Linked DNA regions of Homo sapiens: region 2 is reported to be linked to region 1. Evidence: microRNA targets listed by miRTarBase, many of them from high-throughput screens and not tested one by one. Region 1 holds a microRNA gene; the other region holds the end of a gene's coding sequence.
Evidence for each region. Region 1 holds the annotated microRNA hsa-miR-3684 (UUAGACCUAGUACACGUCCUU, at 1,501-1,521, shown strand). A microRNA usually pairs through its seed, bases 2 to 8, with sites in the 3' UTR of a target mRNA and lowers its output. Matches are read on the target gene's strand: a 7mer-m8 pairs with bases 2 to 8, a 7mer-A1 pairs with bases 2 to 7 and ends in A, and an 8mer does both.

Region 2: the mRNA of ANKRD23 is a reported target of hsa-miR-3684. Seed matches in the 3' UTR shown: 7mer-A1 at 1,506-1,512.

What each region holds. Positions count from the first base shown.
Region 1 is chr4:98,995,934-99,000,083 of GRCh38, forward strand. MIR3684 (microRNA 3684) reads left to right here and starts at 1,454; the gene lies at 1,454-1,527. The region is part of intron 1 of METAP1 (methionyl aminopeptidase 1); the gene reads left to right. RefSeq lists a silencer at 1-459 and an enhancer at 201-983.
Region 2 is chr2:96,835,953-96,839,952 of GRCh38, reverse strand. It overlaps ANKRD23 (ankyrin repeat domain 23), which reads left to right. Exons shown (of 9, transcript NM_144994.8): 8 at 128-226; 9 at 309-2,041. The coding sequence ends at 404. It also overlaps a transcript of CNNM3 not described here. Among named protein-coding and RNA genes, the nearest start is that of ANKRD23, 6.1 kb to the left of the region's middle. RefSeq lists silencers at 78-177, 318-377 and enhancers at 1,517-2,071, 2,072-2,628.

The DNA of each region.
Region 1 (4,150 bases):
CTCCTCCCGCCCTTGCGGCGAGTCGGGACGCGCTCCTCCTCTTCCCCCCGGCCGCGTTTCCTCCTCCCCCCACCCGCGTCGCCACCGCCCCCTCCTGCCTCCTGGGGTCCCTGGGTCCTCGGGAACCGCGCTGGGCTCACGCGGGGGCGGGGGCGCCACCCGCCGCGGCCATGTGGGCTGGGGCGGAAGCGGGCTGTGCGGGGTCGCGTGGCCGCGCTAGACCTCCGCGTTCTGGGGCCGGTTCCCCGCGCTGGGGCGGGGGCCGCCAGGTGTGCGGGCTGCCGGAGGCAGGTAGCGGCGCCGGGAAGGAGGGCAGCCCGAGCGTCGCGAGCCTCCACATCCGCAGCACCGGCGGGGCTCGGGTCTGGGCGCTGGAGGCGCCGGGCCGTCCGTCGGGTCCCTGCGGGGTGGGGGGCTGAAGCTACCTGCCGGGCTCTGAGAGATGGGTGGCCCGAGGACCGTCGGAGTCGCAGAGAGGAGGAACGCTAGCTAGCTCCAGCCCCACTTCTTTGTGCTTTACTACCGTGCTTTGACACTTAAGCAACTTTGGGGGTGGGGAAGGGAGAGGTCTGTGTAATTCATTCTTTTCTTTCGGTATATAAAATTATTAATTTACAAAACTGTAAGCTAACGGGATGAGTCACCTGTGACTGAATTTCCCAGAGTGAAAAGGACAGTTCCATTGAGGGTTAGGCGTGAATGCTGTAGTGTATTTTAAGTTTTGTGCAGTAGAGCAAACCCAGCGTTGAATGGGGTCCAGACTGAAGCGTGTGCTCGTGTTTCTGTTTACTGAAGAGTACTAGTGTTGCTGCTGCATTTCGAGACCCAGGATGAGGGCTGGGCGGCAATAGTATGGCTCTTAGTTACAGTCCAGGTTTAGTGAAGAGAGGCACATGAATATTCAAATATTAAATTGGTAGCGTCCTGTGGGGAGGAGAGCCGGAATAAAGAGAAGGCCTGATTGGGGCCCTGCCCTTGCCAGTTATTGTGCGATCTTGAATTAGTAAAGTTACTTAATCTTTCTGAGTTCCAGTGTTACACTGTACAGAGGGGATGATTATAGCTTTCTTTGTAAGTTTCACAAGCTTCTTCTGAGACCCAGATTATCCAAGGAACGTGAAATGCTGTTATAATGTAAAGTCCTTTATTTTTTAAAGGATTCTAGTACGATTTAACTCTGCCATAAATAAAAATATGAATAAGAATGAAGGCAGATATATGAACACAATACAAATAATAAAAGTGTTTTCCAACATAAAACATAAAAACGTAAAGATATAAATAAATACAATCTTTACGTCACAATATTTGTAGATAAGCGATTGCAAAAGGTCTTAGCTGTGTTATACAGTCTTGTTTTTAGATAGGATATGATCCTTGACCTTGTTAGTATAATTTGGAAAAACTTGCACGTGGAGGAGTGTTGCTTGATCTAAAAATAGCATTACCGAACAATCTAAAGGACCTGTACTAGGTTTAACATGTTGAGCATTACTCATGTTAGACCTAGTACACGTCCTTTAGATTCTTTAAAATTCCCAAATTCTATCTTGTTGTGGCCTGTGTGGGACCTGAAATTAAGAAACAGTGTTTGCTTTTGACAGTTGTACCATCTGAGTAGAATAACTTTAAAAGTAGGTGGCATTTTGAATTAATATGTATTACAATCTTCTGTTAAGATTTTAAAAAGGTAGTGTGAAACCACATTCATGAAACAGGTAGAAAGAAGGTGAATCACTGGGGTTTGTGGAAAAATGCTAGACAAATTTGTGAAAACAAAACATCTAGGGTTTATTCCGTGTGTTAGGATTGGAGGTATTTACATGTTGGATTCTGCAGGTATATTTCTGGTATCACTGTTAGACATGCACTCAAATATTCCCAGAGTGGCTGTCCCAACTGTCTCTTTTTCTTCATTTCTGTTACCACCTCCTATGGTCAGCTTTTAAAATTTCCCACCAAATCAGTTGTCATACTCTCTTAATTTATTTCTCTACTGTAATTCCTCCCCTTGCAAACAAACGCCCACAAAAAACCCTATCAAACAAAACCTTTTGTACAGAAGTTATTTTTCCCGCAGTCTGATTATGCGTATCCCTCATTGCTTTCAGGATTCCAGCCCCACATTCAGGGCCCCTCTTCTGAGCCTCTTGCTCTAGCCAAAGGCTATGTTTACATTCTTTCCTTTCCGAAGTGTCACCTGTCTTCTGAAATCACAGCTGTTCCCCCAATCCCAGCTTGAGACCTTGATCAAGTCACTGTAACTTATTCTAAGCGCTTTATACATCTGTGATGAAATATGGGCTTGGCTGGGCATGGTGGCTCACACCTGTAATCTCAGCACTTTGGGAGGCCTAGGCGGGTGGATCACCTGAGGTCAGGAGTTTGAGACCAGACTGGGCAACATGTCAAAACCCTGTCTCTACTAAAAATACAAAAATTAGCTGGGCGTGGTGGCACACGCCTGTAGTCCCAGCTACTCAGGAGGCTGAGACACAAGAATCACTTGAACCTGGGTGGTGGAGGTTGCAGTGAGCCGAGGTTGCACCACTGCACTCTATCCTGGGCAACAGAGCAAGACTCCGTCTCAAGAAAAAAACAAAAACAAAACAAAACAAAAAACCAAAAAGAAGAAATTAGGGATTTTCCTTAACACTTCTGTGATCACTAGGAGGTCTTTCTTTCTACTGCTCTGGTCCCTGGCCTGGCTGTCTGGCCAGCTTGTCTTTGGGAACAAACAGAACAAAACTGCAAGAGGCCTTTCTATCACACCATTAACAGAAGTAAGGCATTCCCAGTTACTCTGTCACACCACCTTGTTTATTCCTTTATGACCTTTTGTGCAATCTATGATTACCTCACCTGTTAGAAAAATGAGGATTTTTTTTTTTTTTGAGACGGAGTTTCGCTTTTGTTGCCCAGGCTGGAGTGCAATGGTGCGATCTCGACTCACCGCAACCTCCGCCTCCCAGGTTCAAGCAGTTCTCCTGCCTCAGCCTCGCAAGTAGATGGAATTACAGGCATGCACCACCACGCTCAGCTAATTTTGTATTTTTAGCAGAGATGGGGTTTCTCCATGTTGAGGCTGGTCTCGAACTGCTGACCTCAGGTGATCCACCCTCCTTGGCCTCCCAAAGTGCTGGGATTACAGGCGTGAGCCACCATGCCCGGCCGAGAATGTCTGTTTTTTAGTCGGAAGGTGAACTTCATGAATGATCCTATCTTGTTCACTGCCCTGTTCTCATTTCCCAGTATGATGCTCTGTATGCAGTAGGTGGCCATTAAATGTTTGAATTAATGGATAAATGCATCAAAATAGAGAGGTATACTGCTGTGTTTGAATCACAGCTCCATCATTTACTAGTTATGTGACTTGGGCAAATAACCTCTCTTTTTCAGCTGTATCTTTTTAAAATGGGGCTATTAATAATACCTATCTCAGGGTTTTGATGAAGACTAAATCCAAAGTATGTAAAGCTCTTAGCATATTAGTAAACTTAATGAATGTTAGCTCTTTTTATTGTTATACTGTTTTATGTTTAGGAAAGTAGAAATATTTTATCTAGGATGCTTAATTTTTTTTTTTTTTTTTTTTGAGACCGAGTCTTGCTCTGTCACCCAGGCTGGAGTGCAGTGGTGTGATCTCGGCTCACTGCAACCTCTGCCTCCCGGGTTCAAGCGATTCTGCTGCTTCAGCCTCCCCAGTAGCTGAGATTACAGGTGCGCACCACCACGCCTGGCTAATTTTTTTGTATTTTTAGTAGAGACGGGCTTTCACCGTGTTAGCTAGGATGGTCTGTAACTCCTGACCTCGTGATCCGCCTACCTCAGCCTCCCAAAGTGCTAGGATTACAGGCATGAGCCACTGTGCCAGCCTAGGATGTTTGATTTTAAGGAAAGCTTTTGTTCTTTAGAGGAGTACAACCAGTTTTACTTGAAAATTGAGTTTTCCAAGAGTTCTTGATGTTCGATTGTGTTTATTAATAGAAGTTTTCCTTCCTATTTAATAGTTTATGTATGTCTTTTTCATTTGTGTGTAAGAATTTTTTGAGGACAGAGGGTGTGTTTTACTCATTTTTGTATTTTCCAAAGTGCCTTGCCCACAGTAGGCCCTCATTTCCTTACATGAAAGAAAAGACATCAGTGGGCT
Region 2 (4,000 bases), not on the chromosome of region 1:
GAGCAGGGACTGAGGAGCCCCAGCCAGGACCAGAGGTGCTGTCTGCTCGGTGACAGCAGCCCTGACCTTCCTGCATGAGGAGGGCAGCACGCGGAGGCAGAAGCTTGACTGCCTGCGTTCTCAGCAGGAAGGGGACACGGCTCTGCACGAGGCCGTGCGGCACGGCAGCTACAAAGCCATGAAGCTACTGCTGCTCTATGGGGCCGAGCTGGGGGTGCGGAACGCGGTGAGTGTGGGCGCAGCCCTGGCTCCTGACCCGAGGGCGGGTGGAGCGCCTGCAAGGGACTGACCCACACCGTTGCTCCCAGGCCTCCGTGACCCCGGTGCAGCTGGCTCGAGACTGGCAGCGCGGCATCCGGGAGGCCCTGCAGGCCCACGTGGCGCATCCCCGCACCCGGTGCTGACCGCAGCACCGCCCCCCGCCGCGCCTTTCGCACTGCCACCATTCCATCCTGTGCCCCGCCCCCGCGTCTGCACCTCTGTGGTTCCTGCCCTCAGCCCTGGTTCCTCCCTCTCTGGCCTGTGCCGCCTCAGCAGCCCTGGCAGAACTGAAGAGCGGCACCGGGCCCAGCAGGCAAAGAGAGAGGCCTCCCTGGCTTCGAGTGTCAGGGGAGCCGCGTTCCCTCCCAGGGCTGGAGCAGAGGACCACAAGGCAGCAGAAAGCGCGGGTCCAGATGAGGGCCAGGAAGGGGAGGAGAGTGAGGGCCAAGAACGAGCCTTAAGGGAGCAGTCCCAAGCTGGAGCCACCCAGGGCTGGGTCTGGGAGTCCTCAGTGTCCACTTGTCCCAGGTTAGGGGGCTTGCCTTGCTCTCTCCAGGGCCAGTCTGTGTGTGTGGGGACTCAGCCCGTGGCCGGCAGATGCCATCCAGGATGTACAAGGTGCAGCCAAGGCAGGCCATGCAGGGGCCGGGCCTGTCTGCAGCTGGTGGATGCCTGTGGGCATGGCTTTCTCTGGGGACCCCATTCCTGTCAGTAGCAACCCTGGCAGTGTCCGGAGCGGCTCTAGACAACTTTGGTCATAGGAACTCTGGAGGTGGGTTCTGGTCATCTGAGGTGGCTACTCAACAGGTTTGAGGCCCCACAGCAACAGAAGTCCAGGACCCACTAGGTTGCCTCAGAAGCCCTAAGACTGATGAGCTGGAGCGCGCATTTGAGAGAAGCCTCGCACCCACTGTGTACTGGCCCCGCTCAGGCCGGCCTGGCACACCGTTGCCTGCTGGCGGCTCTCATGGGGAAGCGCCTGGGCACTGGGGATTGCTTGTGGCCCACTCAACTCTTGGGGCAGTGGCCCGTAACCCTAGTTTGCCTGAGGCCCTTATGTCCCCTTATGTTCCTGGTACTGGAGCTTGAGCTCTTGCCTGGAACGCTGCAGCTGCACCCACCCTGCTTGATCCCACCTGGGAGGCCAGGACACTGAGGAGCTCTGAACCCAGCCCACAGGGAAGCAGAGGAAGGTGAGCCCCCGCCGCCCCCCAGCCCTTCCCATCCCTTCCCTGCTCCCTGGTGGTCTAAGGACCCAAGCTCCCTAGACTTCCTCTTCCACCGTCTGTACGTTTCAAATTACACTGGTGTAGGCCTGTACTGCTGGTGGGGCTGGGCCCCTAAACGCCAGAAAGTGAATCTTAAGAAGCTCTGCCCTAAACTGAGAACCACATGCTGAGGGAAGGGCTGAAAGGTGAAGGCTCAGCCTCCCTCACATGGGTCCTGGGTTACATTAGGTACCGGGCTGATTGATAGGCATTTGGCCATGGTTCCTTTTCGTCTACCTTTGGGGGCCTTCTCAGGCCCAGAACAAGGCTGTTGTTACTATGTGGAAAAGCTGACCAGTGCTGCACACTAGGGGCACACACCTTTCCATGAGCAGCTCCTGCCCTGTGGCGACAGCCAGCGTGCACCCAGACGCTGGTGCCATGGCGAAGCAGGCGTTCAAGACCATGGAGAAGACAACTCCTCATCTAGAAAATGAGGACACCTCAGTGACAAACACACCTTTTTATACCAATCAGTATCCTCTGTTCATTAAAACTGGCTATCCATTACAGCCTAGCCGTCTTTCCTGGGCCGAGAGGAGCCCATGCTTCAGTCACCAGGGACTGTCTGATAGGGCCCACGCCTGTTAGCCATGCCGGCCGACAGCAAGATAGGCCGAGTGCAGAGTGGGCGGGATGCGGGGTCCTGGCACTAGGCTTTTGTGCTTAAGGCACCTCTGCTCACTGACGACAAGGTCAAAGAGCAGTGGTTCTCCACCTCAGCTGCTTATCAGAATCACCAGGAAGGTTTAAAAAGTCCTGATGTCCAGACCCTAAGTCAGAAGCCCTGAGGGGAGGATCCAGGTATTCTCATGCAGAGGCCATGCTTGTCTATGTGGGAAATCCTAGGAATCTACAGAAAGCAGACAACTAGGGAGTCCAGCAAAATCTCGGGTGCAAGATAAACACACAAAAACCTGTTTCTACCTCCTAGAAATGAACATGTAGACACAAAAGTTAAAAATATGTACTGTTTACAATTGCTGAAAAAGGGAAATACTTCGGTTTAAATCTAACAAAATATGCAAGGACTTGTATGCTGAAAATTATAAAACGTGATGAAATCAAAGATTTAAATAGACATGCCATGTTCATGGATTGCTAGACAGAATACAGTAAAGATATCAATTCTCCTCAAATTAACATACAGGTTAAATGCAGTTCCTATCAAAATCCTAGAAGATGTTTTGTAGATGTAGACAAGGTTATTCTAAAATTCATATACAAATTTATAGCAAAAATATTTTGAAAAAGAATAGAGTGAGAGGAGGAATCAGTCCAGCTGATTTCAAGATCTACTATATAGCTATGTGAACCAAGAGTGCAATGCTGGCAGAGGCACAGACACACAGATCGACAGAGCCGAGATCATCACGGGAACAGGACCACACAAATATGCCCAGCTGACTTTAAGGTGCAAAAGTAATTCAATGGAGGAAGGACAGCCTTTCAACAAACGGTGCTGGAGCAGCTGGACCAGCTATAGGATTAAAAAAAAAGAACTTTAGCCTAAGTCTTACACATTATACAAAAATTAACATGGCTCACATGCATACTTAAATTTAAAACTATAAAACTTCTTTTAGGAAAAAACAGATAACCTTTGGGATCTAAGACTAGGTAGAGTTGTTCTTAAATGCAACACTAAAAGCAACAGTCCATAAAGGAAATATCAGTAAAGTGGACTTTATCAAAACTGAAAACTTTTGCTCTGTATAAAACCCTGTTAAGAGGGTGAAAAGATGGCCGGGCACGGTGGCTCACACCTGTAATTGTAGTACTTTGGGAGGTTGAGGCAGGCAGATCACTTGAGCTCATGAGTTTGAGACCAGGTGTGGGCAACATGGTGAAACCCCATCTCTATAAAAAATTAGCTGGGCATAGGCTGGGCATGGTGGCTCATGCCTATAATTCCAGCACTTTGGTAGGCTGAGGCGGGCAGATCATCTGAGGTCAGGAGTTTGAGACCAGCCTGACCAACATGGAGAAACCCCATCTCTACTGAAAATACAAAATTAGCCAGGCGTGGTGGCACATGCCTGTAATCCCAGCTACTCGGGAGGCTGAGGCAGTAGAATCACTTGAACTGGGAGGCGGAGGTTGCAGTGAGCCGAGACCACGCCATTGAACTCCAGCCTGGGCAACAAGAGTGAAACTACATCTCAAAAAAAAAAAAAAAAAAAATTAGCTGGGTGTGGTGATAGTCCCATCTACATGGGGAGCTGAAGAGGGAGAACTGCTTGAGTCCAGAAGTCAAGTATACAGTGAGCCAAGATTGTGCCACTGCACTCCACCATGGGTGACAAAGTGAGACTCTGTCTCAGGAAAAAAAAAAGGGGGGGAGGGGGAGGGGTGAAAAAGATAAGCTACAGACCAATGGAAACCAAAAATCCCATAAAGGAATCTCAAAGAACTCTCAAAACTCAACAGAAGAAACAATCCAATCAGAAAATGGGTGAAAGACAGGAATA